Regions from separate parts of the Homo sapiens genome. Here region 2 is linked to region 1. Evidence: fine-mapped expression QTL. A gene starts in region 1. The other region holds a variant in brackets. All regions are shown on one strand. Distances are from middle to middle. Region 1 holds the start of PSMC4 (proteasome 26S subunit, ATPase 4). Region 2 has its middle 7.0 kb from the start of FCGBP.

Region 1 (2,907 bases):
AGAGCAAGAATCTCTTTCAAAAGATATATTTTTAAAGGCTACATGGGGTGGGTCATGCCTGTAATCCCAGTGCTTTCAGAGGCTGAGGAGAGAGGATAGCTTGAGGCCAGCAGTTGGAGACTCTAGTGAGCTATGATCGTGCCACTGCACTCCAGCCTGGGCGACAGAGACTCTAGCTCTTAAAAAAAAAAGAAAAAAACAGATGAATGATAACCTTTAGAAGGGATCGGGAGGCCGGATGTGGTGGCTCACGCCTATAATCCCAGCACTTTGGGAGGCCAAGGCAGGCAGATCACTTGAGGTCAGGAGTTTGTGACCGGCCTGGCCAACATGGTGAAACCCTGTCTCTACTAAAAATACAAATATTAGCCTGGGCAACAGAGTGAGACTCCGTCTCGGGGCGGGGAGTGGAGGGGGGAGAAGAAGGGATGGGGGAAAGGGGAGCACATGAGGCTTCTACTGTTTGGTTTTGCGATCTGGATTCAGGTTGTATGGGCATGTTCACTTTGTGTAATTTTGTCGAGCTGTAATGATTTGTGCTCTTCTCTTTATTTAACTTCAATAAAAGGTTTACTTAACAAAAATTGTAGCTGGTGTGAAGGGTAGCAGTGTTTCCCTGGGGCCAAGAGTACAGGCTTTGGGGACAGACAGACCTGGGTCCCAATCTATGCTTTGTCCCTTCGGCACATTGTTGACTGTGGCTGGTGGCTTCGTGGCTCTGAGCTTGTCTCCTTCTCTATAAATGAGGAAACATAATACTTGCGACGATGATGCCTGTAAAGCTTAAGCGCAGGACCTGGCATAGATCTGTAAGGCGGAAACCTGGGATACAGAACTAAGGTCTATGGATCTCCTGTGCTACCCAACTTCTGGGCACTCGCTGCCTCCTTTTCCCCAGCCCAGACGCGTGGGTTCTACTCGATTGGTTGCTCACTGCGGGCTCGGGGCTCCTCAATCCCGGGGTAAAGCCCAGTATGAAATGTCACCTTCAGGGGCAGCTCGGATCTTCCCACGCCCGCGCGGCGCACAATCTTTGGATCAGCGCCACGTGGAGACCTTACCCGCCCGTACGATCAATCCCTTCTGTGGAACCCAGCTCAAGGACCCTCCAGCCCAGACACTAGAAAGCGAAGAGCAGTTGGCCGCCAGACTGTCCGTGCCAGAGCTCTGCGAACTTACTCCGTTGAAAGAGCAACGGGGCTGCGCCACCTCCCGGAGAGAACCCCCAGCCCTCCACGGCAGGGCGAGATGGCGCCACCGCGTGATACTGCGCACGCCCACAGCTCCCGTCCCGCCCTCGCGCCTGCGGGTACGGACAGCGCATGAGCTTATGTTGAGGGCGGAGCCCAGACCAGCCCTTCGTCCTATCCTGCCCTTCCAGCACCTCTCAGCCGTAACTTAAACTACACTTCCCAGAAGCCTCCTCAGCCAGGGACTTCCGTTGTCGTCAGCGGAAGCGGTGACAGATCATCCCAGGCCACACAGAGGCCGGCTTGGTCACTATGGAGGAGATAGGCATCTTGGTGGAGAAGGCTCAGGTACAGTGGGGACTTGGGCTTTTTAGTCCGGGCCGGGCTCGCGGGGAGAGGGTGAAGCCAGACCTGAGTGGGGGGAGGAATGGCTTCCAGGACCCCGGCCCAGGTTGGGGTTATTTTAGAGGCCTCGGTGGAGAGCTTTGTGCCATTCGAAGGCCTGTCTGGGTGGCCGAGTGATGGTAGGAGGTAAGGCTCAGAAAGCGGGGCTGGGGGAGTGAGTGACGTTAGTGGGTCTTTGAGACGGATTGATTTCGAACCCTGGCCGGTAGTGCTTAGTGAGGTCGGTGGCCCGGCGTTGGGATTGGGTCAGGCGGTGAGTGATATATGGGATCCCGCCGTGCGGCCGAGTGATCCCCGGGTCTGGGCTGCGGGGCTGACTGATGTTCAGGGCTTTGCTGATGGGGGTAATGGGGCGGGTAGTTAAGTATTATCTGTGGCTTGCCTGAGTGATATTTAGGTCTAAGGTGAGTTAGGAGACTGTGACATAAGGGATCTTTGAGGGGAAACTGGGGAATGTTGGGACTCGTTGAAGGCGCAGTCACTTTAACAGCCTATCTAGGAGAGCCATGTGACATTAGGAACCTCTTGAAGGGGATTGGGTGGCATTTGGGTCTGATAAGGAGTTGATGTGACGTTTAGATCCTAGTTGGGGGTTGTGTGACACTGGGGACATGTTATGAGTGGTATATGATAACATAAGATCTGTTTGAGGGGCAAGTTGACATAAAGAGCTTGTTTAGGTGGCCAAAAGGTTTCCAGGATCTATTTAGAGGGTCTTAAGATATCAGGGGTCTGTTAGGGGCTAAGTGACATCAGGGTGAAGTGGGGAGGGGAACAAACATTAGTGAAGTTGGGAAGCTTTCATGAGAGGACTGTCTTCTTCCAATGTGAGTTATCCCCTTTCGTCTAGGATGAGATCCCAGCACTGTCCGTGTCCCGGCCCCAGACCGGCCTGTCCTTCCTGGGCCCTGAGCCTGAGGACCTGGAGGACCTGTACAGCCGCTACAAGGTACATTCGACCCCCAACCCAGACCTTGCACAGGACCTGACATCTCATACTCTTCCCCACTTTCCACCACTCTCTGGATCAGCAAGTCTGGAGCCATCCCCTTCTGTCCCCTCTCTGCTCGCAGAAGCTGCAGCAAGAGCTGGAGTTCCTGGAGGTGCAGGAGGAATACATCAAAGATGAGCAAAAGAACCTGAAAAAGGAATTTCTCCATGCCCAGGAGGAGGTGAAGCGAATCCAAAGCATCCCGCTGGTCATCGGACAATTTCTGGAGGCTGTGGATCAGAATACAGCCATCGTGGGCTCTACCACAGGTGTGCTAAGGACACCTCATTCATTCATCTGTCCACTTAACAACTATTTCCT
Region 2 (2,907 bases), 30 kb before region 1:
AAGATTCTCAGCAGATAGTTATTTTCTTTCAGCACTTGAAGAGTATTGCTCCAGGCTTTCTTCTCCATGGTTTTTGATAAGAAATTTTTTGTCATTTGATCAGTGTTCCCTATAGACAATTTATAATTCCTCTCTAGCTGCTTCCAAGATAGTTTCATTGTTTGCCTTTGTTTTCATAAGTTAGTTATACTGTGTTTTGGCATGGAATCCGTCAGATTTATTCTGTTTAGCTTCTTGCATCTGTAGGTTTATGTCTTTTGCCAAATTTGGGAAGGTTTGGTCATTATTCTTCAAATATTTTTCAGCCCCACTTTCTTTTCTCCTTCTGTTAATCTGATAATACAAATGTTAGCTATTTTATAATTGTCCTGCAGGTTCTCTGAGCCCTTGTTAGTCATTTTCTGTTTCTCTTTTTTAAAGTTGATTGTCTCTCTGTTTTTTGGATTGGGTAATTTTTATTGTTCTATCTTCAAGTTCACTTCTTATTTCCTTTGTCATAGTTGCTCTGCTCTTGAGCCTTTCCAGTGAGTTTTTATTTTAGTTATTGTATTTTTCAGTTTTATCATTTTCATTTGATTCTTTAAGAACATACTTTCCATTTCTTTGGTGAGATTTTCTTTTCTTTCCCATCTTTGCAAGGAATTTCTACTTGCTTGGTGAAACATTTTTATGATGGCTACTTTAGATCTTTGTCAGATAATTCTAAAATCTTTCATCTCAGTGTTAGATTGTTGATTGGCTTTTCTCATTCAAGTTGTGATTTTTCTGGTTGTTCATATTATGTATGATTTTTAAATTATATCCTGGACATTTCTGGTATTATGAGAGGAGACCCTGGATCCTATTTAACTCTTCCATTTTAGCAGTCACTGTTTTTAGGTTAGCATGCAGGTCCTGGCCTACTTTTGTGTGCTATGATTCCAATGACAATTTAGTTTTCAGAGCCCTTGCATTATTATTCCGGTCTATTTCATTTGCCTGGTGCTGGTTGAGCTCATACCCAATTCCTGTTAGTACCACCAATGGAGGTTAAAAGCATTTTCTTGGGGCCTGCTTGGTGCTGCTACGTTAGGAGTAGGAGACACTGGCACAAAAGGGTGGAGAGTACTTCCCTGGGCTGCGTGGTGCCAGCAGGGCTCTTCCTTCATCTCTGCCATCCACTAGGGTGGGGAAAGCACCTACCTGGGTGCTTTCTGC[C/T]GCTGGATAGGGGGCTGGGGAGATGCTGGATCTAGACCACGTCCTGTCGTTGGGTGGGAAATTGAGAGATGCTGGGCCACTGAGATGTTTCTCGAGTTCTAAGGCCCTTGTCAGTTTTCCTTCTTTTTATCTTTCAGAGTCCTCTTAAGAATGTCTGTTATGTTATTCCAGGGTTTTTAGCAGAGAGGAGCCAGGAAAAATAAATCTATGTCATCTTGACAGAGATGTTACCATCATCCTGGCTTGTTGTAGTCTCCTAAGATAGAAATCAAGTGAGATTACCAGACACAGTATTAAAGAGAAAAAAAAAAAAAAGTTTGTTTCCGTTTGTGCAGAAGGGAGGTCAGCACCGTGAAAGGAAAAGGGTAGGCTGCTCCCCACAGGGAGCAAGTCGATCTGTCTTGTAGGGGTCCAGATGCCATGATGTGCCTGTCATCATGTGTTAACAAGGGATTTCTTGGCGCCTGCACAATGGTTCAACATGGTTTTTCATACATTGCATGTAATATTGGCATTTTAAATCTCTACCTCTGAGCATGATTTTTAGCATTGAAATAAGGAAATTATCACTGTAAGTTGAAACCTAAGCTGTTCCTGTGGCTTCCTGGGGAAGTCCCTAAGCCCCTAAAGCAGGAACTTGTGGTTAATAGCTTCTTGGGCCTCTGATGCTGACTGGCTGGAGGTTAGGTATAGAACAGGAATTAAAAGAAATAAAGAATGTGTAAGCAAAACTTAGTTGTATGTAAGAAAACCCAATTCCCCCTGAGGAAGAGAAAGAGCTGGAGTCCTTTAAAATTAACTGCCTGTTTTTCTATGGCTAGTGAGCCTTATCTCTCCCTTTCCCAGGCATTGTGAAGACTCTGTTTCTCTAGCTGTGCAGCTGTAAGATCACTAGACAGATAATCTCAAGTCGTAAAACATGCTGTTCCTTGAAAAAAAAATGATATAATGCATGTCTCAATTGAATGACTGTCTTTGTTTCTCACTTCTGTGATATGCTTCCCCCTGCACAGATCTCCCCCAGCCCCACGAAATGCTTAAAAGGTAGCTTGACTCTTTGTTCAGGGCTCAGTCCTTTGGATGTTAATCTGACTGGGTCGGTGCACCTGAATAATTAAATAATTCCTCCTCAACCCCACGGTCTCTCTGATTCCTTAATTATCCTGCTGCAGACAAGCTACAGCTTGAGTAAGGGGCTTTTGTTCTTTTTCACTAAACCACCTCAAAATAGGAAGCCAGCCAGCTGTCTCACTCCCAGCCAAGAGATTTCATTCTCCTTATTCTTTTTTTTTTTTTTTTTTTTTTTAGACCAGGAGAAATAACTTTATTTGAATAGGACCCGAGACAGCATATTGGGCTAAGGAGGAGAGGTAAGGTTCCAAAACCGCAGTCAAAGCTCATCAACCAAATGGACTCTACTTCCCAGCAACCTTGCAGTTAGTGCAACCAACAAAAGGCCTGCTGGGGAATGTATTTGCCACTAAATCCCCCAAGTATGCCAACATTACAAAAAAGATAGAGGTTTTTCATCATAATTGAATTTCCACAAACCTCCCCAATCACAAGTATTATAAGTGGAAGTAAAAAATCACATTTTACAGATCTCAAACTTGTCTTCAACATTTAGTTCATCATCTTCAAAAAATAGCTCCCCTGCCTAATTCATTAGCTATATGATCTCTCCAAGCAGCAACAAGATGGCCAGGCCAT

What was found. PIP is the estimated chance that this variant, and not a neighbour inherited with it, causes the effect.
Region 2: its variant is the best candidate, but not a certain one, in a credible set for the expression of PSMC4 in whole blood (TOPMed, PIP 0.59).

The regions. Positions count from the first base shown.
Region 1 is chr19:39,969,701-39,972,607 of GRCh38, forward strand. PSMC4 (proteasome 26S subunit, ATPase 4) reads left to right here and starts at 1,465. Exons shown (of 11, transcript NM_006503.4): 1 at 1,465-1,538; 2 at 2,446-2,544; 3 at 2,669-2,855. The coding sequence starts at 1,503. It overlaps LOC124904720 (a long non-coding RNA gene), which reads right to left and starts at 1,271. Exons shown (of 3, transcript XR_007067260.1): 1 at 1,180-1,271; 2 at 654-736. RefSeq lists enhancers at 785-834, 1,335-1,724, 1,749-2,428.
Region 2 is chr19:39,940,153-39,943,059 of GRCh38, forward strand. It overlaps the pseudogene PRR13P5. Among named protein-coding and RNA genes, the nearest start is that of FCGBP, 7.0 kb to the left of the region's middle. RefSeq lists enhancers at 1,517-1,596, 1,697-1,786. The variant C/T (reference allele first, on the strand shown) is at 1,198.